3 linked regions of the Homo sapiens genome follow. The protein of the gene in region 1 interacts with the protein of each later gene in a pairwise test. Each region holds a gene or a part of one and is shown in the gene's direction. Other genes may lie near its edges.

Region 1 (9,086 bases):
TATGATGAATATTCTCACCAAAGCAGTTAAAATTTTTCCTTGGCTGTGATTGAAGGAAACATGACTTAAGGCAAATCATTTATTAAGTAGAGTGGACACCTAATAAACTGATAATATATTAATTTGGATATACATGGCTGTGACCCAGAAAAAGTCATTTACATTTGATCACAGAAATACACTTAGCATTTGATGTAATAGGACACATACTAAAGAGATTAATTTCCTGTTATCTTACTGTCAGTGTTTTTTTAGAACCACTTAGCTCTCTGCTTCCAAAACCTACTTTGTTTTGTTTTGAGATGGGGTCTCACTCTGTTGCCCAGGCTGGAGTGCAGCGGCATGATCATAGCTCACTGCAGCTTTGACCTTCTGGGCTCAAGGGATCCACCTGCCTCACCCTCCTGAGTACCTGGGACCACAGGCGTGCGCCACCACACCCAGCTAATTTTTAAATTTCTTTGGTAGAGACGGGTTCTTCCTGTGTTGCCCTAGCAGATCTCAAACTCCCAGGGTCAAGCAGTCCTCCTGCCTCGGCCTCCCAAAGTGCTGAGATTACAGGTGTGAGCCACAATGCCCAGCCCTCCAAAACCTACTTTGAGTTGTACTTTTCTTCCTTCACTGTGGTGTGCCACAAGCCATGCACACTAAGGAGGAAGGTAGCTTCCATCTCCAGTTCACTTTTCTTTTTGCATTGTTACTTACGCTTTAAGAAATACAGGTTTAAAACTAGATTATAGGTAACTTGTAACATGTACTTACAGAACCTAAAAAGAAGTTTTTACAATTCCAGGACATTCTTGGCATTTTTCTCAAGCAACTAAGATTGCAGTTAAATAAGTGTTCCTCTGTGCTAGCTTATTTAAATTCAAGAACTTTTGCAACATGGTTTATTATGTTGATTTTTTGTTGTGTATGTCTAAACTTCCAATTCATCTGTGTCTTCTAAAGTGCACCAACATTGATCAGTTAGTGTGTGAGGGCAGAGGCCTTCATCATAGTAATTTAGTGATCAATAGTGTTTCTTAATAGGATGGGGCATTTTAGAGCTTTTTTTTTTTAAATGTTAACTGTGGTTTTAATAATTAGATTTCTTCTATGTGGCTCATGGTAACTGACCATGTGTTCATATTTTCTTCTAAACTTTTTAGGCGTACAAATCCATTTGGAGAATCTGGAGGAAGTACAAAATCTGAAACTGAAGGTAAGACAGATGTGCAGCATTCATATATTTTAGAACTGCTTCTCAGCAAACTGTGAATAATTTATTGTTTATATTTGCTCTGCTACTAAGCTCAGTTTTAATGCTATCTTTACTTCAGAATTTCCTCTACTTACTTATAGTACACTTGAAGCAACAGAACTTAATCTGACTTAAGATGTTGTGATTCATACAAAACGATAGACTCTCATACTTTTGACTTTATAGTCAAATTCAGTGCCTAAGATACCTTTCAAGCTTTTCCTAACAGCTGATGTTTCTCTTCTGGTACTGGAGCATAAATTTTGTTTTTCCGCCACTAACTATTTATTTGAATTCTAAACTTACAGAAATGCTGTAAGAACCACCAGTTGTTGTGTGTTTGTGTGTGTGTGTGTGTGTTGAGACAGGGCTCCCTATGTTGCCTAGGCTGGTCTCGAACTCCTGGGCTCAAGGGATCCTCCTGCCTTAGCCTCCCAAAGTGCTAGGATTACAGGTGTGAACCACCACGCCTGGCCTCAGAACTGCCAGTTGTTGAAGCATTACTTTTAGCTATTTGAATTTGAAACCCTAATTTTCCTATAACTTGGAATACTGTAGTTAGGAGTTATTTTGAAATGTCTCCCTTAGGCTGTTGAATTTTTCACTAGAAAACCTAAAAGGAGGCAGTGTATTTTATTCTTTTGGAAAAGAAATATGGCGAAAAAAATAAAATGTAAATTTATACAGTAAAAAAAAAATATGTAATACACCTTGTTCTATTATAGATTCTATTCTTCATCAGTTATTTATTGTCCGATTCCTTGGTTCAATGGAGGTGAAATCAGATGACCATCCAGATGTTGTTTATGAAACTATGCGCCAAATCTTAGCTGCCCGGGCCATCCATAACATCTTTCGTATGACAGAATCGCATTTATTAGTCACTTGTGACTGTTTAAAGTAAGTAAAACCCTCCCTTAAAAAACTGTAGAAAAAACATTTACATGATTTCAGCCTAATTAAAATTTGTTTTCCAATTTTTAAATTATTATTTTAGGTTAATTGATCCACAGACACAAGTTACAAGGCTCACGGTGAGTTCCACATGATTTAAGCTTTGTTTTAGGTCCCTTTGTATATATACACATCTTACAACTTGATAATAATCCTGATCCTGTATATTCAAGTGTGATAGTATCAGCTATGATTGGTCTTTGGCTGTTGTAGTTAAGTCTATGGCCATCTCCAAAAAGTTGTCATTGAACATTTTATGTAACTTAAAAGAATTAACACAATTCTTTTTGTAATTTTTTTAACACAGTTCTTTTTGACTTTGTAAAATGTGTTAATGACTAATAAAACAAATGTAATATTCAACAACCTTTTTCTGCTTGTTAATTCAAACCAAATATGACATTACTTGTTTCTGCATTACAAGTCTGTTAAAATAATTGGCTTTAATATATTAAAATATTTATATTTTTAGAACTTAGCATATGAGTTTGTCACAAGTGCTGCTGTAATGACTTGTAAGATCTCATGTTTGCTTCTGATGTTTTCTGTGGCAGTTTCCATTACCTTGTGTAGTTTTGTATGCTACACACCAGGAAAATAAGCGCCTTTTTGGATTTGTTCTTCGGACATCAAGCGGGAGAAGTGAAAGTAATCTGTCATCAGTCTGCTATATATTTGAGTCAAACAATGAGGGGGAAAAGGTACATGGCTTTTCAGAATATCTCTGTCATAACCACTTACTAATTGATTCTTACTAAGATTTAATAATAATTAAATTCTTACAAATTAAATTAGTTAGTAATTACTGATTGAATTCTTTACAATTTATACAAATTTATGAGGCACATGTGAATTTTGTTACATGTATAGAATGTACAGTAAGCAAGTCAGGGTATTTAGGGTGTCCATCATCCAAGTACAATACATTTTTGTGAAGTATAGTCACCCTACTCTGCTGTCAGATATTAAATATATTCTTTCTATCGTAATTTATGGTTGTACCCTTTAATCAGCTTTTCTTCATCCTCCCCCTTTCCTCATCACTCAGCCTTCCCAGTCTCTGTTGTCTGTCATTCCACACTCTGCCTCCACGTGATCAATTTTTTGGCTCCCACATACAAGTGAGAACATGTGATATTTGTCTTTTTGTGCCTGGCTTATTTCACGTAAGATAATGACTTCTAGTTCCATCCACGTTGTTGTGAATGACATGATTTCATTCTTTTTATGGCTGAATAGTACTCCATTGTGTATATGTACCACATTTTCTTTATTCATTTATCTGTTAATGAACATTTAGATTGACTTAATATCTTTGCTATTGTGAATAGTACTACAGTAAACATGTGAGTGCAGGTATCCTTTTGATACAGATTTCTTTAATTTTGGGTAGATACCCAGTAGTGGGATTGTTGGATCGAATGGTAGTTCTATTTTTAGTTTTTGTTGTTGTTGTTGTTTTTGAGACGGAGTTTCACTCTGTCGCCCAGGCTGGAATGCAGTGGTGCGATCTTGGCTCACTGCAACCTCTGCCTCCTGGGTTCACGCCATTCTCCTGCCTCAGCCTCCCGAGTAGCTGGGATTACAGGTGCCTGCCACCATGCCCGGCTAATTTTTTGTATTTTTAGTAGAGACGGGGTTTCACCGTGTTAGCCAGGATAGTCTTGATCTCCTGACCTCGTGATCTGCCTGCCTCAGCCTCCCAAAGTGCTGGGATTACAGGCGTGAGCCACCATACCCGGTCTATTTTTAGTTTTTTGAGAGATCTCCATACTGTTTTCCATAGTGGTTGTACTAGTTTATGTTCCCACCAACAGTGTATGAGTTCCCCTTTTTTCTGCATTTCACCAACATCTGCTATTTTTTGTCTTTTTAGTGATAGCCATTCTGACTAGGGTAAGAATGGCTCATTGTCATTTTGATTTGCATTTCTCTAATGATTAGTAATGTCGAGCATCTTTTCATATACCTGTTGGCTGTTTTTGTGTCCTTTAAGAAATGCATATTCATATCCTCTGCATACTTTTAAGTGGGATTATTTGATTTTTTCCCTGTTGAGTTCGTTGTATATTCTGGATATTAGTCCCCAGTTGGATGAACAGTTTGCAAATAATTTCTCCCATTCAACAGGTTGTCTGTTTACTCTGTTATTTCTTTGGCTATGCAGACACTTTTTAGTTTAAGTCCCATTTGTTTATTTTTATTGCCTATACTTTTGAGGTCTTAGGCATAAAATCTTTGCCGAGACCAATGTGCAGGAGAGTTTTCCCTTCATTTTCTTCTAGTGTTTTTTTTTTCTATGGAAAATAACCTTTTTTTTTTTTTTTTTTTTTTTTTGAGACAGACTCTTGCTCTGTTGCCCAGGCTGGAGTGCAGTGGCACAATCTTGGCTCACCGTAACCTCCACCTCCTGGATTAAAGTGATTTTCCTGCCTCAGCTCCCAAGTAGCTGGGACTACAGTTGTGTGCCACCATGCCCGGCTAATTTTTTTAGTAGAGACAGGATTTCACCATGTTGGCCAGGCTGGTCTTGAACTCCTGACCTCAAGTGATCCACCTGCCTTGGCCTCCCAAAGTGCTGGGATTACAGGCATGAGCTGCCACACCCAGCTGGAAAAAGAACCTTTAATAGAACAATTATTGAGAATATCGTACTAACAAAGTTTCTCAAGAGACTAATTAGAGCTAAAATGGTGAAAGTAGGATGATCTTTGTTTTTCGTTTTTTGTGGGTACAAGGGGTGTGTGTGTGTGTGTGTGTGTGTGTGTGTGTGTATGCATTTTTTTTTTTTTTTCCAGATGGAGTCTTGCTGTGTCACCTGGGCTGGAGTGCAATGGCGCGATCTTGGCTCATTGCAACCTCCGCCCCCTCGGGTTTAAGCGATTCTCCTGCCTCAGCCTCCTGAGTAGCTGGGTCTATAGGCATGCGCCACCACGCCCAGCTAATTTTGTATTTTTAGTAGAGACAGGGTTTCTCCATGTTGGTCAGGCTGGTCTCAAACTCTCGACCTCAGATGATCCGCCTGCCTCGGCCTCCCAAAGTGCTGGGATTACAGGTGTGAGCCACCTCGCCCAGCCAGGTGTATATATTTATGCAGTACATGAAATATTTTGCTACACTTATGCAATGCGTAATAACCACATCATGGAAAATGGAGTATTCCTTCCCTTAAGCATTTATCCTTTGTATTAGAAACAATCCAATTATACTCTTTTAGTTATTTTTAAATGTACAATTATTATTGACCGTAGTCCCCCGTTCTATCAAATACCAGGTTTTATTCATTCTATTTTTTTTTTTTAATCATTAACCATCCTCCCACCCCCCATCCCCACACTACCCTTCTCAGCCTCTGGTAACCACCCTTCTGTTCTCTGGCTCCATGAGTTCAATTGTTTTGATTTTTAGATCCCACAGATAAGTGAAAACATGCAATATTTGTCTTTCTGTGCCTGGCTTATTTTGCTTAACATAATGACCTCCATGTTCCATATATCTTATTGCAAATGACAGAATCTCATTCTTTTTTATGGCTGAATAGTACTCCATTGTATGTAAGTACCACATTTTCTTTATCCATTTTCTTTATCCATGTATCATCCATTCAAATGACAGAATCTCATTCTTTTTTTCTGGCTGAATAGTACTCCATTGTGTGTGTGTGTACATTTTCTTTATCCATTCATCTGTTGTTTTTTTTTTTTTTCCATTCATCTGTTGATGGACACTTAGGTGGCTTCCAAGTTTTAACTATTGTGAACCGAGCTGCAGCAAACATGGGAGTGCAGATGTCTCTTCAATATACTGATTTCCTTTTTTTAGGTATATACCCAGCAGTGGGATTGCTGGATCATATGGTAGCTCTATTTTTAGTTTTTTGAGGAACCTCCAGACTTTTCTCCATAGTGGTTATACTAATTTACATTCCCACCAACAGTGTACAAGGGTTCCCTTTTCTCCACATGCTTCCCAGCATTTGTTATTGCCTTTTTGCTATAAGCCATTTTAACTGGGGTGAGATGATACATTGTAGTTTTGATTTGCATTTCTCTGATGATCAGTGATGTTGAGGACCTTTTCATATGCCTGTTTGCCATTTGTATGTCTTCTTTTGAAAAATGTCTATTCAAATATTTTGCCCAGTTTTAAATCAGATTAAGGTTTTTCCTATAGAGTTGTTTGAGCTCTTTGTATATTCTGGTTATTAATCCCTTGTCAGATGAGTAGTTTACAAATATTTTCTCCCATTCTGTGGCTTGTTTCTTCACTTTGTTGATTGTTTCCTTTGCAGTGCAGAAACTTTTTAACTTGATGAGATCCCATTTGTCCATTTTTGCTTTAGTTGCCTGTGCTTGTGGGGTATTACTCAAGAAATTTTTGCCCAGACTGATGTCCTGGAGAGTTTCCCCAATATTTTCTTGTAGTAGTTTCATAGTTCAAGGTCTTAGATTTAAGGCTTTAATCCATTTTAATTATATTTAAAAAAATTTAAAAAAAAATAAAAAAAATAAAAAAAAATTTTTTTAAAAAATATTTTTGTATATGGTGAGAGAGAGGGGTCTAGTTTTATTCTTCTACATATGGATATCCAGTTTTCCCGGCACCATTTATTGAAGGGACTGTCTTTTCCCCAATGTATATTCTTGGTGCCTTTGTCAAAAATGAGTTCGCTGTAGTTGTGTGGATTTGTTTCTGGATTCTCTATTCTGTTGCACTGGTCTATGTGTCTTTTTTTTTTTTTTTTGCCAGTACCATGCTGTTTTGGTTACTATAGCTCTGTAGCATTGTAATTTGAAGTCAGGTAATGTGATTTCTCTAATTTTGTTATTTTTGCTCAGAATAACTTTGGCTATTCTGAATCTTTTATGATTCCATATACATTTTCAGATTGTTTTTTCTATTTCTGTGAAGAATGCCATTGGTTTTTTGATAGGGATTGCATTGAATCTATAGATTGCTTTGGGTAGTATGGACATTTTAACAATATTGATTCTTCCAATCCATGAACGTGGAATATGTTTCCATTTTTGGTGTCCTCTTCAATTTCTTTCATCAGTGTTTTATAGTTTTTTGTTTTTTTTGTTTGTTCTTTTGAGACAGAGTCTCATTCTATTGCCCAGGCTGGAGTGCAGTTGCATAATCTCGGCTCACTGCAATGTCTGCCTCCCAGGTTCAAGTAATTCTCATGCCTCAGCCTCCCAGGTACCTGGGATTACAGGTATGCGCCACCACCACCTGGCTAATTTTTGTATTTTTAGTAGAGATGAGGTTTCACCATATTGGCCAGGCTGGTCTCAAACTCCTGGCCTCAAGTGATCCACCTGTCTCGGCCTCCCAAAGTGCTGGGATTACAGGCCTGAGCCACTGCGCCCAGCCTGTAGTTTTCATTATAGAGATCTTTCACTTTGGTTAACTCCTGGGTATTTAATTTTATCTGTGGCTATTGTAAGTGAGATTACTTTATTTATTTCTTTTTCAGATTGTTCACTGTTGGCATATAGAAATGCTACTAATTGTTGTATGTTGATTTTGTATCCTGAAACTTTACTGAATTCATCAGTTCTAATAGTTTTTTGGTGGAGTCTAGGTTTTTCTAAATATAAGATCATCATATCATCTGCAAACAAGGATAGTTTGACTTCTTCCTTTACAATTTGGATGCCTTTTTTCCTCTCTTACCTGATTACTCATCTTCCATCTAAAAGGTGGAAAGGCTTTTTGTTTTTCTGCATTCAGTATGATACTAGCTGTGAGTCTGTCATATATGGCTTTTATTATGTTGAGCTATATTCCTTCTATACCAAGTTTTTTTGAGGGTTTTTAATCATGAAGGGATGTTGAACTTTATCAAATGCATTTTCAGCAGTAATTGAAATGATTAAATAGTTTTTGTCCTTTATTCTGTTGATGTGATGTAGCATATTGATTGATTTGCATATGTTGAACTATCTTTGCATTCCTGGGATAAATCCCACTTGGTCATGATAAATGATCTTTTTAATGTGTTGTTGAATTTGGTTTGCTAGTATTTTGTTGAGGATTTTTGCATCAATATTCATGAGATATATTGGCCTGTAGTTTTCTTTTTTTGATATGTCTTTGTCTGGTTTTGGTATCAGGTAATACTGGCCTCGTAGAATGAGTTTGGAAGTATTCCCTTCTCCTCTATTTTTTGGAACATTTTGGGTAAGATTGGTATTAGTTCTTCTTTAAATGTTTGGTAGAATTCAGCAGGAAAGCCATCAGGTACTGGGCTTTTCTTTACCAGGAGACTTTTTATTATGGTTTGGATCTTGTTACTTGTTATTGGACTGTTCAGGTTTTGGATTTCTTCGTGGTTCAATCTTGGTAGGTTGTATTTGTCTAGGAATTTATCCATTTCTTCTTGATTTTCCAATTTACTAGCATGTAGTTGCTCATAGTAGCCACGAATGATCCTTTGAATTTATGCAGTATCAATTGTAATGTCACCTTTTTAATCTCCAATTTTATTTGAGTCTTCTTTTTCTTAGTCTGGCTAAATGTCAGTTTTATCTTTTCAAAGAAACCAACTTTTTGTTATGTTGATCTTTTGTATTGTTTTCTTCATGTCAGATTCATTTATTTCTGCTCTGATCCTTATAATTTCTTGTAGTATTTTTATAGTTTTGGGTCTTATGTTTAAGTCTTTAATGTATTTTGAGTTGATTTTTGTGTATGGTGAGAGGGAGGGGTCTGGTTTCATTCTTCTACATGTGGCTCTCCAATCTTGCCAGAACCATTTATTGAAGAGGATATCCCTTCCCCAGTGAAAGTTCTTTGTCACTTTTGTTAAAGATCAGTTGGCTGTAAACAAGTGGCTTCGTTCCTGGGTTCTCTATTCTGTTCCATTGGCCATGTGTCTTATTTT
Region 2 (9,086 bases), on another chromosome or scaffold:
GTCCTGGATGCACAGGAGCTTCTCTGGGTCAGCTTTCTGTACAGTGTTATTTGCAAGCCCACTAAGCTGGACAGGGAAAAGAACCTGACAGCAAAACAAGAGCAGGTAGTCAGAGGTTCTTCGGGCTAAGCTCTCCTGACCTTGGTATCTGTTTTTGTTTTCAGATCCACTCAGGAGCAGAGCAAGGCAGAGCTGTAGCCCAAGGTGTCCTTGGGCTCCCCTGTCCAGGGAACCCTGCTCACTGACCTTCTTAGCGCAATCAGGATGGCTGTTCTACACCCATCTCCACCTCCCCCAGAACCTCCTCCCCTGCTCATTCAGATCACCTCACCCTGCCACAGCCCACATTCTCTGTAATTGATTTCTCTTCCTTTCTGGCTTAACCCAGAGCCACCTCCACAAACCTCCAATAACCAGGTCCCTATGGGTCACAGGAGATGTTCAGGTTGTCTGACAACTTAATTAGATCACTTTTGATGACAGCCAGGCCTGCTGCTGTGGGTGATCATGGGTGAAAGGCTTAAGGCCTTAGAGAAAGGTGACACAAAATGTTCTTTCTCTGTCTTATAAACACTTGTTCAATAATTGTACGATTCCTGTCCTTCAGGATGAGAAAGATCTGTCGCTCCCCGCATTGCTTCTCTACACACAAATGATGTGTGTAAAGACCTTACAGTTATAGAATCCAGGCTGCTCTGCCTAAGTATGCCTTTCAAACTTAAATTTCATTTAATCCTTTGAATAGGTAATACATGCAAGTAATACAAACTTCAAAAGTTACAAAAGATTATACAGCAATAAATCAGTCTTCCTCCCACCCGTGTCCCCAAGCTTTAAAAGTGGCATTTTCTTTATGCCACTAACCTGTGCTGTCTGCCCTTGCTCAGTGCTTCCAATTATGAAACCCGTGTATTGTTTGCATCTGACATTATTGGTTTTTTAATAGGCCTTTTATTTCAGATGGCTGAATAAGAATGGGATTCAAGAAATACACAACTGTGCATTCAATGGAACCCAACTAGATGAGCTGTAAGTAGCCCTGACTATTCTTCAAGGCCATTTAAAGGGAAATGGCTCTTACAACAGCAATATTTATGTGGCTTTGTGTTTTCCTTCTTCTTTCCTCAACCCCATCCCCAGGAATCTAAGCGATAATAATAATTTAGAAGAATTGCCTAATGATGTTTTCCACGGAGCCTCTGGACCAGTCATTCTGTGAGTAGCTTTCCCCATTTCTGTGTGTAAGAGCTCAGTTTGTGTAAGTTAGAAGTCAACTCTCTGCAGCTAGGGGAGAAGCTTCCAACACAGGGCTGGCCATCAAGTTCAATTTTTATTCGTGTCATCTGCAAAAATTTATAGAGACAATTTAAGGCTTATCCACGGTCTAACTCTCCATTAAAAAGCAACACTAATAATAACATGTAATGAGCACGTACAGAGTGTCAGATGGCGTTCTCAGAAGTTAAGATGCATTTTCTTGTTTAATCCTTATAATCACCCCCTGTGGTAGGAGCTATTATTCCCGTTTTACAGAAGGAAAAACTGGCTTCCCTGGAGAGGTTAATTCACCCACTCAAGGTTATACAAGAGTTACAGCAGGGATTTAAACTGATCTAACTCATGGTACAGACCCACAACCACTCGATCATGTGTCTCTTCCCTGGAAAGGAAAGCACAATTCTCCATCATCCTCAACACTCAGGAGGTTCCTTCAACCCAATGAGACCTATATACACATTATTTTTGGATCCTCTTTCCAAATCCCTTGGGATGCATTCCGTGCCTCACAGCCCTGCATCAGCACCCCTCCCTCTTGTCATTTCCTTACTTCCATCTTTCCCTCCAAAAGTGACTTTCCCATCTTCTCTTCTTACCTACACTGCCCCTTCCATCAAGCATCATTCCAAAGTCCTCTACCTCCTCAAGTCTCTCTGACAACCTCGCCATCAGTGACTTCTTCCCGTGGCTCTCATGGCCTTTAAGGCTTCTTTGGTGGGGGGACAATCTGCATCACAATCACAAAAAGGCTTTTTAAAAATGTGTTCCTGGGCTCTAAGCAAGACCTACTACACTTACTGACTGAAAAAAGTACTTCAAGATGAAGAAAGGAACCCAAAAGGAGAGAATGAGGTACAAGAAGGAATGGTGAGCAGAGCAATAGATAAACATGTTAATAAATCTACAGTTTTACTGAATGATCCTTATGTAGCCTGCCTTAAGTCAAGTCAGGCGTTTAGAAGCCACCTGCCTGAACCTCTTATTTGGCAGTTAGCATAGGCTACCATGTGTGGTTATCTACCCACCTACCGACCAACCATCTATCTGCATCACTTTTGTCTACACCAAATAGCTAATATTCTCCTTCAGGCTGGAACCTGTGTACCTCTAGAATTAGACTTGGTATGGAGAGTCAGAATTTTAAATATTTATTATTAATGATAAAGGGTGTGTTGTGATCTATATATGAGATTCTGCTGCTTTGAAGAAGAAATATACACTTCAAGGTAGATTTATCATCCTGACCATGTTCAAAGATTATTCGAGAATGCCTGGCTTGAGATAGGCAACCTATACAAATGGAGTATCCGTGTGATTAAAGCGGAGATACAGAGCAGACTGCCTTGGTTTAGACCAATTCTTTTACCTCTCTAAGCCTTGGTTTCCTCACCTAAAAAAAATGGCCAAAACAATACCTATTTCCTAATATTATTTGAAGCATAAAACACACACACACACATAAATATTTTTTCACTCATCAGATAAATTTTTAAGCATCAGTCTTGTGCCATGCAGGAAACAAAGGAAAGTTCCTCCTCATAGAAAGCTTATATTCTCATTGGGGGTGGGAATAGAGAGGAGTCAGGCAATACATTAAATATACAACTTAATATATCAAGTCATGATCTATCTATGAAGTACAAGGAAGGACCCAGGGCTAACAAATGGAGAGTGTTGGGCATATAGTCCATGTACTCAAGAATACAAAGTACTCAAAACTTGTACTGCTTAGTTCATGTACCCTGTTCTTAGAGTACTCGGGAGACAAATGAATTTTGACAAGTACTTTTGATGTCTTTGATCCCCACAATAGCAGCATGTCAGTTTCACTTAGCAAAAAGCCCTGAAAGTTTTGAATGTTCCTAAGAAGGCATCTCTATCTGTTCATGGCAGAATATGTCAGTGATGGGTGTGTTTATATATGTGACCTGTACCAGGTACAATATTGAATCTATAGCATCTTAACCTATCTGCTCCCGAGAATAATGAAGTTGGATGAGATCCCCCAACTCCTTCATTATCCAACTGAAGAAATCAGAACCCAGAGGAGAGTGATCTGTTAAAGATCACACTGCAACTAGAAGGGGCAGAGTCTGGACCAGAAACTAGGTCTTCTGCCTCACATTCCATGTATTCCCACCATACCATGTTGCCATAAATACGTTTAATTGAACATCTAAAAGTTATTCGGTGAGGCCCCCTGAAACTGGTTGTGAGCTAAAATAGAGAGGAAAATAACTATTAACACCAGCCTCCCAGCCTAAGAACACCAGTCAATGTTAGATAAACGTGGCACAGAAGAACATCTCCTGAGGTTGCACAAGCAGATTCCAGGCGAAGATACTGCACAATGTATCTCATAAGAATGTTTAACAGAGAACACAAAACTTGAATCCCCCATCTAGCCCCACTGTGAACGCAGGCAGGAAGAGAGCCTCTGTGAAAGCATCGGAAGCAATTCTACAAGGTCCTCAAGTTATAGGCCCATTGTTTTGTCCTTCTTACCACAGGAACACATCTGTCTAGAATTAAGGGAATACAATTTACAGAAAATCCATGGAATTAGGAAGCACTCCCCATGACTTAAAAAGGTAGAGAGTGATAATACATTCCCACATATTTCCATCTCAGTGCAGGATCCTGGCTGGAAGCCCAGCCTATAATTGCGAATTTCCTCTTTTCCCCCTGGGGCCAAAAGAATTGTTCACCTTAACATCAAGCCCCCCTTTCTGGGGCTTTCAGATCAGTCCATAGATGTTCTTCAAGCCTCTCCCCCTGCTGACCTGAGATGCAAGAAGACTAATAGCTTATTCCACATCTCACTTCTGCATCCAGATACACTAAACCATCTAAACCCTGGCCTGAGAGGTGCTTGTGTAGGTGTGCAGTAGACCAGCCCACCTCAGGTGATGAGTTAAGAGGTAAGAGTAGGAGTATGCGTAGGCTATTCAGACCACAGTAGGTGCAAATCATGCTGATCTTGACTGTGCCTTGGGTCAGATTGCAGTCCCCGCTCCCACACACACACACACACACACACACAAAGACTGTGATATATCTGCATGCGGGAGGTTTACCGGAGGGTGCTCTCAGAATGTACAGGGAACCCTTGATGGAAGCAGAATCAGGGTAATGCATTTGCAACAAAAGGCTCAGCTGATCCCATGGGGAGATCTGGAGTTAAGATGGTCCTTCAAAGTTGTACTGAATTAAGGTAAGGGGCAAGTCCTCCATATCAAGAATTATTGGGTGCAGGCTGTCCCTGGGGAGGAACCAAACTCCTGGGGAGGAGAAAGTCAGCTGAGGGCAATTCCCAGAGTAGACTCGGCTATGAGCCACCTCAGCTGTGAGTGGTTCTCAGTTGTCCTAGAGCAGCATGTTCAGAGTTGAGTAGGTTTTGGGGGGGTGTTTTTGTGGTTTTTTTTAATCACCCATGCTGGAGTGCAGTGGTGCCATCATAGCTGACAGCAGCGTTAAACTCCCGAGCTCTAGTGATCCTCCTGCCTCAGCCTTCTGAGTAGCTGGGACTACAAGCGTGCACCACCACACCTGGCCATTTTTTTTGTTGCAGAGACAGGGTCTCACTATGTTGCCAAGGCTGATCTCAAACTCCTGGCCTCAAGTTATTCTCCTGCCTTGGACTCCCAAAGCACTGGAATTACAGGCGTGAGTCATAACACCCAGCTCCCACCTTTAGAATTTTTGATTCAGTAGGTCAGGGTTGAGGCCTGATAACTTGTATCTCTAACATCTTCCTAGTGAAACTGATGCTGCTTGTCCAGAGTGCTCTCTGAGAATTACTGCCCTAGGACCAATATTGGGAATTGGGAAGCCTTGCTCAGTCTCCAAAATATCTCCTCCACAAGCCAAATGTGGTGAATCTTCCTCCCTCACTGGCTCAGTCCTTTTTCTCCAGTGGATATATGCAAGGAATTCTAAGAAAATTAAGGGGCACACACTCAAACTGATGATAGCTGCTTTCCTGAAGGCAAAATTTGTAGTTGAGGGAAGAATAGGGAGCCTCTGAACACCTGAGGGTGCAAGGGTGCACTGTTCCACACAAAGAAAGATAGATGCAGAGAAAGCCAGGGGCATACAAACAAGTTTCATCGAGTTTCAGAGGAGCAGCTCAGCATCCTCATTTCCCCCTTGTGAGTCTTGACCTTGAACATCAGCAGCCATCTGAGTTTTTACCTGATATTCTGAACTCACTCAAGGTTGTTTTTTTTTAAGCAATCGAACAATTGCTGTTTCTTTGGGAAACAGTTTCCTGTGGGGAAAATTTAATGCATTGCCTTTGCAGGCTGGAGCCAGTACAATCATATTCTGATGGTTTATCAAATTGATTTGGCTATAGCTCAGATTCATTTGATAGTTCAGATTCAAACACTGAGTTATTTGTATAAGAATGGTTCTCTTCCATTACCAGTGTACCCACAGTCCTATAGATAGTAAATTGCCTTTTTATCCAGCCTGGGATCATGAAAGAGAGGTCTTCTAGCCATCTGTCAGTGTAGTATACACCAGAAATGTGCTCTCACTTATGGAAATGATTGACCTGTAATAACATCTTTGCTGGGAAAAATAGAAATTGTTCAAATCAAATTTGTGGCACTGGCTATAACACACTTTATTAAATGGGGCACAGAGTGCTTTTTAACTCCTGCCTCTCCTGCCTCAGCCTCTTACTACCCTCCTACCCATGCAGTCTCTCTTGCTACTCTGTATCTCAAAATGAAGAGTACTAACAATGTGGAAACAATTTTAAATTACTAAGTCTCTTCTGTGCAAGTCATAATCCCATGGGGTATCCACTGGTCTTTTCAAGATTTAAATTCTCAAAACTACTCACTATCTGAATATAGCATGTGTTGCAACGTTAAAAGTGATATTTTTAAAAGAAAGACCAAAATCATTAGAAGAGACCAGCCTGAAAGATAAAGTTTAAAAACACCAGTCCACAACTACCCCTCCCCGCTTGTCCAGCCCACCAGTTCCAGGCACAAGGGCAGGAATAAAGTAAACATTCTCAAGCACTCATTGAGGGCATCAAGTCTTACATGACATACATTTAGTGGATGTTGATTAAACACCTACTGTGTGTCTGGCAAGGGGTAAGAAATATATGTGAAAACAGAAAACAGTACCTACTGTAATGCATCTGGCCAAGGGATGAATGTTACTCCCCAGTACAATGAGCACTGCAGAAATTTTCACAAATGGCTATAGTAATATACAGCAGATGCCTAATAAACCCTTGTCATCATGTCACACAATGACTTTTAACACGTGAAGTGATAGTGTGGGAGGAGACAGCCTCTGTCATCCTAGGCCTGAATTTCTGCAAAAGCCACGTTGTCCCCTTCCTACCCTCAGTCCTTTCCCCTTCCATTAGTTTACCAACTATTTATTGAACACCCACCATATGCTGGTATCAAGGTTCTCAAGACTAATCTTACAAAAATCCAGCTTTGAATAAACCATTCTTCTGCTCATATAAATCCTAAACTCTTCTGCATGACTATCAAGGCTCAGAGATCTAATCCCGTCCCATGGTTCCCTTTACTCCTCCAAGTATGATTGCCCAGAATAACTATTCTAAATAACCCTCCCTCACTGTGCCATGATTTATGTTCTGGGCCTCTCTCTAAGCCTATCTTTAGCAAATAGTCATTGTATTAGTCAAGGTTATTCAAAGACAGAAACGAGAGAGAGAGAGAGAGAGGAGAGGGGATTTTATTATTATTATTATATTTTAAGTTCTGGGATACATGTGCAGAACATGCAGGTTTGTTACATAGGTGTACACGTGCCATGGTGGTTTGCTGCACCCATCAACCCATCATCTACATTAGGTATAACTGAAGGAGACAGAGACACGAAAAACCCCTCAAAAACGTCAGTAAATCCAGGAGCTGGCTTTTGGAAGAGAATAACAAAATAAACAGACTGCTAGCCAGACTAATGAAGAATAAAAGAGAGAAGAATCAAATAAACACAATAAAAAATGATAAAGGAGATATCACCACTGATCCCACAGAAATACAAACTACCATCAGAGAATACTATAAACACCTCTATGCAAATAAACTAAAAAATGTAAAAGAAATGGATAAATTCCTGGACACATACACCATTCCAAGACTAATCCAGGAAGAAGATGAATCCCTGAATAGACCAATAACAAGTTCAGAAATTGAGGCAGTAACTAATAGCCTACCAACCAAAAAAAGCCCAGGACCAGACAGATTCACAGCCAAATTCTACCAGAGGTACAAAAAGGAGCTGGTACCATTCCTTCTGAAACTATTCCAAACAACAGAAAAAGAGGGACTCCTCTCTAACTCATTTTGTGAGGCAGCATCATCCTGATACCAAAACCTGGCAGAGACAAGAAAAAGAAAAATTTCAGGCCAATATCCCTGATGAACATCGATGCGAAAATCCTCAATGAAATACTGACAAACTGAATCCAGCAGCACATCAAAAAGCTTATCCACCACGATCAAGTCAGCTTCATCCCTGGGATGCAAGGCTGGTTCAAAATACACAAATCAATAAACATAATCCATCACATAAACAGAACCAATGACAAAAACCATATGATTATCTCAATAGATGCAGAAAATGCCTTCGACAAAATTCAACACCACTTCATGCTAAAAAGTCTCAATAATCTAGGTATTGATGGACCGTATCTCAAAATAATAAGAGCTATTTATGACAAACTCGCAGCCAATATCATACTGAATGGGCAAAAACTGGAAGCATTTCCTTTGAAAACTGGCACAAGACAAAGATGCCCTCTCTCACCACTCCTATTCAACACAGTGTTGGAAGTTCTGGCCAGGACAATCAGGCAAGAGAAAGAAATAAAAGGTATTCAAATAGGAAGAGAGGAAGTCAGATTGTCCGTTTGCGGATGACATGATTGTATATTTAGAAAACCCCATCATCTCTGCCCCAAATCTCCTTAAGCTGATAAGCAACTTCAGCAAAGTCTCAGGATACAAAATCAATGTGCAAAAATCACAAGCATTCCTATACACCAATAATAGACAAACAGAGGGCCAAATCATGAGCAAACTCCCATTCACAATTGCTACAGAGAGAATAAAAATACCTAGGAATACAACTTACAAGGGATGTGAAGGACCTCTTCAAGGAGAACTGTGAACCACTGCTCGAGGAAATAAGAGAAGAGGAGATTTCTTAGGGACATTGGCTCACATGGCTATGGAGGCTGAGGAGTCCATGATAGGCTATCTGCAAGCTGGAGAACCAGGGAAGCTATAGCATGGCTTGGTCCAAACTTGAAAGCTTCAGAACCGGGGAGGCCATCTAATTCTCAGTCCAAGCAAGAGGCCTGACGTGCCTGTGTCAACAAGGAGACAGACATGCACTGGGGAGTAAGTAGAATGATACATTGGGTGGACTGACTTGAACACCATCCAGTGTTCAGGTGTTGGATTGGGAAGAGGCCTGAGAACCAGGGAAATTGATGGTATAACTCTGAGTCTGAAGTCAAAGTCCTGAGAATCCAAGGGGGTGGGGGAGGGAAACTGGTACAAATCCCTGAGTCCAAAAGCCTGAGAACCTGGAGTTCTGATGTCTAAAAGTAGGAGAAGAAGGGGTACCCAGCTTCTGGGTGAGGGCATATCTTCCTTACTCAATCCATGGATTCACATACCAATCTCTTCTGGAAATACCCTCAGACACCCAGAAATAGTGCTTTACCAACTATCTGAATATTCTTTAATCCCCTCAAGTTGACACCTAAAATTAACTATCGTGGTCACAATAATGTA
Region 3 (9,491 bases), on another chromosome or scaffold:
CCCTCCGACATCTTTGGCTTGCATGATAGAGACTTCAGCCTAACACGCCTCCCTGGAAAAGTGCCCAGGAGATACTCGAGCAGGTGCTGGGTTTTAGGAAGCCCCTCAGACATCCCGCCTCTACTCATTAAAAATTACCTGGAGCTGGCCGGGCGCAGTGGCTCATGCCTGTAATCCCAGCACTTTGGGAGGCCGAGGCGGGTGGATCACGAGCTCGGGAGATCGAGACTGTCCTGACTAACACGGTGAAACCCCGTCTGTACTAAAAATACAAAAAATTAGCCGGGCGTGGCGGCGGGCACCTGTAGTCCCAGCTACTCGGGAGGCTGAGGCAGGAGAATGGCATGAACCCGGGAGGCGGAGCGTGCAGCAAGCCGAGATCGCGCCACTGCACTCCAGCCTGGGCGACAGAGCAGGACTCCGTCTAAAAAAAAAAAAAAAAAAAAATTACCTGGAGTTGCTCGCTGAGTGCTAATTGTGCTGCTAGCATTGCCGGCCTAGGGTTCACAATGACTCTGTGTTACTGGCCATTCCTTGTCATGGCGGTGCCTTTATATAACAGGATCTTCACTTTACATACAGATGAGATCACGTCTGGCTTTGTCATTGGGTTAAAAAGTGCCCTTGATAGTTGTGGAGGTGACACATACTACCAAGGAGTCCTACGGGTTTGCAGTTTAGAGGGTGCTCATTAGTGTCTGGTGGACAGGATTTATGTTTGGCTTTTATGTCTGTACTGGATCTGGTGGGGTTTTTTACTTCCTTCCTTGATTCCCCCACTATGCCCCCACTTTTTCTTTCTTGTTTCCCTTCCTTCCTACTTTCCTTTCCTCTCCTTTTTTCTCTCTCTCTCTCTTTGCTTCCTTCTTTCCTTCCTTCCTTCCATCTCTCTCTCTCTCTGTGCTTGCTTGCTTCCTTCCTTCCTTCCTTCCTTCCTTCCTTCCTTCCTTCCTTCCTTCCTTCCGTGTCTCTCTCTCTCTCTCTTTCCCTCCCTTCCTTCCTTCTCCTTTCTTTTGGAGTCAAAAATTAATTTAAAAGATGTCATGTCATGTTTTAACTTAGGAAGCAGCCTTTTCTGCTCACTTGGGGTGTTCATCTTAGAACACATGCTATCATCGACGAACTTCTTTGACTGATCAGAGGAAATAGATTCAAGTTCTTACCGTAGACACAACTGGGCACAGACATCAAAAGAGCTCTGAAATCAGGGCGTGCAGAGAGCCCCAACACCCACACACCAGAACCCAGAGGTATCCCTGCCTGTGATTTTTAATTTGACAGTAGGTGGCAGAGTCCTGGGAGACGTGGGAAGAGGCCATAAGAGAATGCAGACATGGGAATGGATTAATCCAGAGTCCAGCCATGGTCTGCAGGTGGATCTCCCTGTCTCGGCCTGCTCACTTACAAATGGGTGCTCATTTACAAATCGGTGTGAATCACATTTCATCATTTGTGAGCTCCTTAGTTTCCAAGAAGTACAGTTTTCTCATGTGTTTCTTGGACTTTATGCATATGCCTCCAGAGTTTGAATCATGCAAAGATGCTGCCACTTAAAAACCTCTTTCCTACAAACTTACACCCCTCCGATCGTGGTTTTCCTGTGAATCTCAGCTGGGCACGATGGCTGACGCCTGTCATCCCAGCACTTTGGGAGACTGAGGCAGGTGGATCACGAGGTCAGGAGTTCAAGACCAGCCTGGCCAAGATGGTGAAATCCTGTCTCTACTAAAAATACAAAAAATAGCCGGGCACGTTGGCAGGCACCTGTAATCCCAGCTACTTGGGAGGCTGAGGCAGGAGAATCGCTTGAACTCAGGGGGCAGAGGTTGCAGTGAGTCGAGATCACGCCACTGCACTCCAGGCTGGGAGACAGAGTGAGACTCCATCTCCAAAAAAAAAAAAAAAAAAAAAAATACTGTTAGAAGAATGGAAAAAACTATATAGATGGAGAGAAAATATTAGTAATCTGATATCTGATAAAGAACTCATATGCTGAATAAATACCAAACATTTAACATTCAACCTTTGAAAACAAAGAATCCAACTAAAGATGTAAATGATTTGAAGACATTCACCAATGAAGACACGCAGAAATACACATACATTCACCAATGAAGATACACACATGAAAAGATGATCACCATAATTATTCATTAATAATGCAAATGTCAACAGCACTAAGATTCCTCTACCCACCTATTACAATGGATAGAATTCAAATACCTGAGAATATCAAATTCTGGAGAGGATGTGGGATTCTCATTCATAGCTGGTAGACAAGAAAAATGTTTCATTCACTCTAGAAGGCCTTTTGGCCCTTTCTTATGTAGTAAAACATAGACTTACCTTTAGATCCATCAGTCGTACTACTAGGTTTTACCTAAGTGAATTGGAAACTGGTTCTCACATGGAAAATCGTGTACACGAATGTATTAGTAGTTTATTCATAATCACCAACCAAGATGTCCTTGAAGAGGTGAATGGATAAAACCAATGGTACTTCCACAAACTGAAAGTGTATTCAAAGTTCAATCTACCCTCAAATATTCCAGGACAGGAAATTTTGGAGGCCAGTTCAGCCAAGTGGCAAGGGAAAATGAATCACCATCTTATCTCAACTCTTCCAATGCATCCAAAATGGGCAATTGTTTAACTCATTCTCCCAGGCTCGCTCTCCTAGATTCATAAACAGATGAAGGCACCCGAGCACTCATGAAAAGAATTTGTGAGGCAAGTGTTCACACACATCGCAGCAAATGTCATAAACAGATAATCACATATCCAACACAACAGTGGATTAAACGAACAAGCTGCCTGTATGCATGGAATAAAAATAGGATTAAATGTTAGAAAAAAATTCAATTCTAACTCCCTGCATACAAGATAGACTAGAAAAAAACATTCAGTCATGACAATGGGTACAGGAAAAGGCTCTGAAATGAATTCTATGTAAGTACAAATTAACAATGTTTAGCAAACTAACATTAAAAGGAACTTCCATTTCCTAAAATTGGCAGCAAGCATACATAAATGTGAAATGTCAGAAGCTCTGCCATTCACGGCAGTGACAAGTCGTTGACATATGCTGTCACCACTACCACCTACATCTGCAGTGAATATCAAAATGAAAAAGAGCCAGAGCTATGGATGTCAAGATGAAAATGAGATATGAAGACTGCAAAGAAATAGAGTATTTGTTAACTATATGATTATCTACATAGAAAATTCAAAGGAATAGACACATTGAATATTCAAATGAATAAAAGACTTCAGAAAACATCATACAGAAGGTCATTAAAGCAAAATCAAGAGCCTTGCCACACAAAAGCAACTTAGTATATAAAATAGAAAATAGAAAATGCACCATTCACAGCAGCATTAAAATCCAAAATGTAAATAAGAAGAGCCTGACAAGACCTTTATGGAAGCAACTGTGCAAAGTTGCTGATAGACTCAGGAAATAATCTCAAGTAAATGGATCTGTATACCATATTCCTTGATGGGGAACAGAATATGGCAAAGATGTAAATGCTACTTAAATTAAATACAGAGTGAGTGCCTTAACTGTCATTGCCAAAGTGACAACCAAGCTCAGGTTGCTGTGCTCTGCTCCCCAAATCAACCCCGGAAAAAATATAGGAGGGAAAAGATTAAAAAAAAAAACCCATCAAAACAGAGAAAGCCCTGGGGATGACTGAAGACTGTGCTAAACTAGTACTTGTGTTTTGGGTCCAGGGAGCAGCAGGGAAATCGAGGAGGTCTGTACCCTGCATAGATGGCAGATTACAGGATGGATAGGAGAAAGTGTTTAACATTCCACCCCACATCATCGCGCAATCTGAGGCAGCACCACAAAATCTGATGCCAGTAGCCCTGGAGTAATATCAGGACACCAGGAAATTTGAGTTGATTGAGACACTATGGCTCCAGAGTTCTGCTAACAACCACCTGAAACAAACTTAGTAGGAGAAGACCAGCCTTCCAAAAAATTATTATTTTAATGGAATATAAAGAATGAACTAGGAATAGAATAGTAAGTATGTGTGAAGGCCACATACTATGAGTAGATATTAATAAAATATGTGTGCATATATATAGTATAAAGTCTAGAAATACAAACGAATATGTAGCTAAAGATATATACATGTAAGTAAATATAAGATATAAAGATATATATGCGTGTATGTATACATATAAGCATAGATGTATATAATGTCTAAAACAGGTATGTATATAAACGTAGATATAAACAAAATGTACAATACCATATATAATGTACACATACAGTGTAAAATTTATTACCATGTGAATGAGAATTAAAATATGAAAATCGCTAATCTGGACTCTGCTGTGTTCGATACCTTCAAAACACATGGCTTCTCCAAATCTCTTGCTGCTGCTCAGCCTCTTCCGTGTAAAAATAAATCTTTTAGGACAAAAGGTTTGCAAAGTCTAGCTCTGGCTGGGGAGGAGCCCCCATGGGATGGTGTGCATCTTCTCTCACAGGTCCTACAATCACAGGTGCTGCAGCCCCCCAGGGAGCATCTAGCCTGGGACCCGCAGCCATTCTCTGCAACGCGTGCAGCTGGGCAAATGCTCAAAGGTGACATAAACAGATCATCTCCCACACATCACTTCATCAAAGAGCCAGGAGCCAGGAGGAGAACCCTCCTGAGAGGGGACTGAAGGTCCAACCTCCCCACATAGAGGGGCCACAGAATCCAGCTCAGCCCTTCCTGTCAGCCCTGGAAGACCCTGGCAATGTTGTCACCCCGACCACACCCCTCCCCTCACTGCCACCTCATGTGACTGGGAGTCAGAGACTTGGTCCGAGAGGAGCAGACCCAATGGGCAGAGAATGGGGATCGAGACCCAGGCATCAAGGTCAGGACCCCCTGAGGGATGACTGAGGGCCCCTATCCCCATCCCCACCCCTACTCCGCCAGAACCCGGTTCAGCCCCTACTGGCAACCCAGGGAAGCTCCAGGCTTGGGGGCCGGATGTGACGTCACTGACGTGCGCACTGGGGGTCAGAGAGAAGGGAGAGGCCTCCTTCTGAGGGGCGGCTTGATACCGGTGGAGGTAAGCTGGCCGAGGCTCTGTGAGGAGTCAAGGTGAGGTGCTGAGGGAAGACTGAGGATGTCCCCACCCCAGATAGAGGACCCGAAAGAACCAAGTGCCGTCTCTGCTCCCAGCCCTGGACCACCCGGGGGCCGATCTGGGGCTGACTTGTGAGGCTGGGCCGACCCCCTCCCTCCGCCGCTCAAGCTGCTGGGCACTCTGGAGTGAGAGCTTGGTGTGACCAGGGCAGGGCTGGTTAGGAGAGGGCAGGGCCCAGGCTCTGCCGGGCATCAAGGCCAGGACCCTGAGGGAGGCTGGGCCCCCCCAACCCAACCATGACCTACAGCCCCAGGTTCCCCAGCCCCATCCTCAGCTCCACTCTACACCCCACCCCACCCCACCCCACCCCACCCCAAACTCCACCCCACCCCCCCAACTCTCCCGCGGCAGAATCTGGTTCCGCCCCTGTTGTCAACCCAGGGAAGCCCCAGGTGCCCGGATGTACGGCCAGTGACTCCCACACTGGGGGTCAGAGAGTAGCGGGGGCCTCGCTGTGAGGGGCGGGTCGATATCGGTGGAGGGAAGCGGGCCCAGGCTCTGTGAGGAGGCAAGGTGAGACCCTGAGGGAGGACTCAAGACCCCCCGCCCCAGATAGAGGACCCCAAATAATACAGCGCCGCCCCTGTGCCAGCCCTGGACCACCCCGCGGGGTCGGGCGTATCAGGCTGGGCCCAGGCTCTGACTGGCATCAAGGTCAGAACCCTGAGGGAGGGCTGAACGCCTCCACACCCCTAACCCAGCCACCACCACCATGACCTACAGCCTCAGGTTCCCCACCTCCATCCTCACCCCCCCCCCCACTCCACCCCACCCCCAAGTCTCCCGTGGCAGAATCCGGTTCGGCTCCTGCTGTCAACCCAGGGAAGCTCCGGGTGCCCGGATGTAAGGCCTCTGACTTGCGCACTGGGGGTCAGAGAGTAGCAAGGGCTTGGTTCTGAGTGGTGGCTGAAGATCGGCAGAGGGAAGCGGGCCCAGGCTCTGTGAGGAGGCAAGATGAGACGCTGAGGGAGGACTGAGGACGCCCCCACTCCAGATAGAGGGCCCCAAATAATCCAGCAGCACCCCTGCTGCCAGCCCTGAACCACCCCGGGGGCGGACTTCTCAGGCTGTGGGCCACCCTTCGCCACCCCACCACTTAAGCCCCAGGGGACTCTGGGTCAGAGCTTGGTGTGACCAGGGCAGGACTGGTTAAGAGAGGGCAGGGGCCAGGCTCTGCCAGGCATCAGGGCCAGGACCCTGAGGGAGGGCTGAGGCCCCATAGAGGGAGTCACTGCCCCTGCAGTGGACCCTGGGAAGTTCCGGGCATGGCGGTCAGGCAAGCGGATCGTGATATCTGCATCCTGGGCTGACCGAGGGAAGGGGCTTGGTATCGTTAGCGTGGCCGCGGGAGAACAGAGGGAGGGCCCAGGTCCTGCTGGGAGACAAGGGAGGCCTGAGGGGACCCAGTACCCCAGGACAAGGGGCCCACCCCGCCCCTATCTGAGACCGAGGCCCCTCCTCATTCAGCCTCGGGAATCCGACAGATGGAGACTCAGGTCCACAGAGGGGTGGGGCCCAGCCCTCTAGGAGACCAGGGAAGGAACAAGACGGAGGACAGAGGGGACCCCGGAGTCCAGCTCAGTGGGGATCTTGGCCTGGGCGATCCCGGGCACGGTGGCCGCATGTGGTGCATTGTGGCTGGTGGGATCGGGTGTCAATGGGAACAGGGCTGTGGTATGAGGAGTGGGGCCTCAGGTGAGCAGAAGGAGGAGTCCCAGAGGCCTGAGGAAGGATTCACCAGACCTCTCATCCCAGACCTAGGAAACCTGCCCCTGCCGTCAGTCTTGGAAGGCCCCAGGCAGGACGGTGAGGAAGGGAAGTGCCCCCTCCACCCCCAACACACACTTTCTCAAAGAGGGTCTAAGGGAGAAATTGGCCTTGGTCTGCAAGACTCACCTCTGGTTCAGCAAAATGGAAGGGGCCAGATTCTGTCAGAAGCAAATATGAATACCTAGAGGACACCCAGACCGACGAGGCCCCCTGGAACCTGCTCCTTTGGTCAGCCTTGGGTATCTCATGCATGAGTGACCATGAGGTGGCCCCTCACTTCTGCCTCCCGGGTCTCCGGGAGGTGGGGGCCTTGGTCCGAGGGGTTTCCTCAGCTCAGCAGAGGGAGCCACACCTGGTCAGCACAGGGTGGAATCCAGGGTCTTCCAGGAGTGACGGGGAGGAAGTTTGGTGAGGACTGAAGGTAAGAAGGTACCTCCACGCTCTCAAAAAAGAAAGGACCTCACAGACACTGGTGTCACCTGTTCTCAGCCCCAGGTGGCCCCAGGCAGGAATGGCATGAGGCATGCTCTCATTTCTCCCACGTGACTGGGGGTGAGAGGTCTCAGGGAGGTGAGTACCTTGATCCCAGGGGGCACTGAGAGATCCAACAGAGGGCTCCACACCTGGTCAGTAGAAGGAGGACTCCCAGGATCAGCAGGACCCAAGGTGTGCCCCCTTCATGAGGAATGGAGGTACCCCCAACGCAGAAAGAAGCCACCCCACAGAGTCTAGGTGAACTCTGTTCTTAGATCTGGGGGCGGGGGGGGGCCTGATCAAGGATGGTGCTAAGTGGCAAGCTCATTTGTACCACGGCAGGAAGTTGAGGAACCCTCAGGGGGATGAGGCGTTGGTGTAAAGGGAGATGTCTGCTCATCTCAAGGGTTTGAGGGTCGAGGAAGTAGAAGCCCCAGCAGGAGTAAAGATGAATAACCCGCAGGAGGACTTTGGAACACCCACCTCATACCTGAAGGGTTCAGCTGGTGGGGTCAGCCCCGGACACCCCACGCAGGGGTGACATATGTGGGGCCTCCTCACCTCTGTTTCTGGATCTCAGGGAGGTGAGGACTTTGTTCTCAGAGGGTGTGTGTGGACAAAACAGGGAGGCCCTGTGTTCGACAGACACAGTGGTCCCAGGATTGGAGAGCAGTCCAGGTGAGGAACCTAAGGGAGGATCGAGGGTACCTCCAGGCCAGAGAAACTCTCAGATCAAGAGAGTTTGCCCTGCCCCTACTGTCACCCCAGAGAGCCCGGGCAGGGCTGTCTGCTGAGGTCCCTCCTTTATCCTGGGATCACTGGTGTCGGGGAGGGCTGGCCTTGGTCTGAGGGGGCTGCACTCACGTCAGCAGAGGGAGGGTCCCAGGCCCTGCCAGGAGTCCAGGTGCAGACTGAGGGGACCCCACTCACCAAACACAGAGGACCTAGCCCCACCCTGCCCCTTGTGTCAGCTGAGGGAAGCCGCTGGGTGGATGGACTCCCCTCACTTCCTCTTCAGGTGTCTCCTGGAGATAGGGCCTCAGGTCAACAGAGGGAGGGTTCCAGACCCTGCAGGCATCAAGATGAGGACCAGGCAGTATCCTCACCCCAGGACACATGGACCCCATTGAATTTAGACATCTCTTACTGTACTTCCGAGGAAACCCTGGGCAGGTGTGGGCAGATGTTGGTTGGGGCATGTCCTTCTGTTCCATATCAGGGATGTGAGCTCCTGATCTGAGAGACTCTCAGGCAAGTAGAGGAGTAGAGTCCAGTCCCTGCCAGGAGAAAGGTCAGGGCCCTGAGTGAGCGCAGAGGGGACCATCCACCCCAAAAGTGTGTAGAACTCAAGAGTGTCCAGCCCGCCATCTTGACAGCACTGAGGGACCGGGGCTCTGCCTGCAGTCTGCAGCCTAAGGGCCCCTCGATTCCTCTTCCAGGAGCTCCAGGAAGCAGGCAGGCCTTGGTCTGAGACAGTGTCCTCAGGTCGCAGAGCAGAGGAGACCCAGGCAGTGTCAGCAGTGAAGGTGAAGTGTTCACCCTGAATGTGCACCAAGGGCCCCACCTGCCCCAGCACACATGGGACCCCATAGCACCTGGCCCCATTCCCCCTACTGTCACTCATAGAGCCTTGATCTCTGCAGGCTAGCTGCACGCTGAGTAGCCCTCTCACTTCCTCCCTCAGGTTCTCGGGACAGGCTAACCAGGAGGACAGGAGCCCCAAGAGGCCCCAGAGCAGCACTGACGAAGACCTGTAAGTCAGCCTTTGTTAGAACCTCCAAGGTTCGGTTCTCAGCTGAAGTCTCTCACACACTCCCTCTCTCCCCAGGCCTGTGGGTCTCCATCGCCCAGCTCCTGCCCACGCTCCTGACTGCTGCCCTGACCAGAGTCATCATGTCTCTCGAGCAGAGGAGTCCGCACTGCAAGCCTGATGAAGACCTTGAAGCCCAAGGAGAGGACTTGGGCCTGATGGGTGCACAGGAACCCACAGGCGAGGAGGAGGAGACTACCTCCTCCTCTGACAGCAAGGAGGAGGAGGTGTCTGCTGCTGGGTCATCAAGTCCTCCCCAGAGTCCTCAGGGAGGCGC

What was found.
Region 2: the proteins of APPL1 (region 1) and FSHR interact in a two-hybrid assay, tested with the Homo sapiens proteins (2 studies listed by BioGRID).
Region 3: the proteins of APPL1 (region 1) and MAGEA9 interact in binary tests that used the Homo sapiens proteins (3 or more experiments, as listed by UniProt).

What each region holds. Positions count from the first base shown.
Region 1 is NC_000003.12:57,257,877-57,266,962, forward strand, and holds part of APPL1 (DCC-interacting protein 13-alpha), read left to right. Parts: intron 1-1,151; coding exon 1,152-1,204; intron 1,205-1,968; coding exon 1,969-2,143; intron 2,144-2,240; coding exon 2,241-2,277; intron 2,278-2,751; coding exon 2,752-2,898; intron 2,899-9,086. UniProt on the Homo sapiens protein: Multifunctional adapter protein that binds to various membrane receptors, nuclear factors and signaling proteins to regulate many processes, such as cell proliferation, immune response, endosomal trafficking and cell metabolism.
Region 2 is NC_000002.12:48,975,041-48,984,126, reverse strand, and holds part of FSHR (follicle-stimulating hormone receptor isoform 1 precursor), read left to right. Parts: intron 1-960; coding exon 961-1,029; intron 1,030-1,140; coding exon 1,141-1,215; intron 1,216-9,086. UniProt on the Homo sapiens protein: G protein-coupled receptor for follitropin, the follicle-stimulating hormone. Through cAMP production activates the downstream PI3K-AKT and ERK1/ERK2 signaling pathways.
Region 3 is NC_000023.11:149,776,914-149,786,404, forward strand, and holds the start of MAGEA9 (melanoma-associated antigen 9), read left to right. Parts: upstream 1-5,016; 5' UTR 5,017-5,082; exon of another isoform or gene 5,083-5,114; intron 5,115-5,569; exon of another isoform or gene 5,570-5,673; intron 5,674-8,843; 5' UTR 8,844-8,930; intron 8,931-9,088; 5' UTR 9,089-9,157; intron 9,158-9,232; 5' UTR 9,233-9,297; coding exon 9,298-9,491. UniProt on the Homo sapiens protein: Not known, though may play a role in embryonal development and tumor transformation or aspects of tumor progression.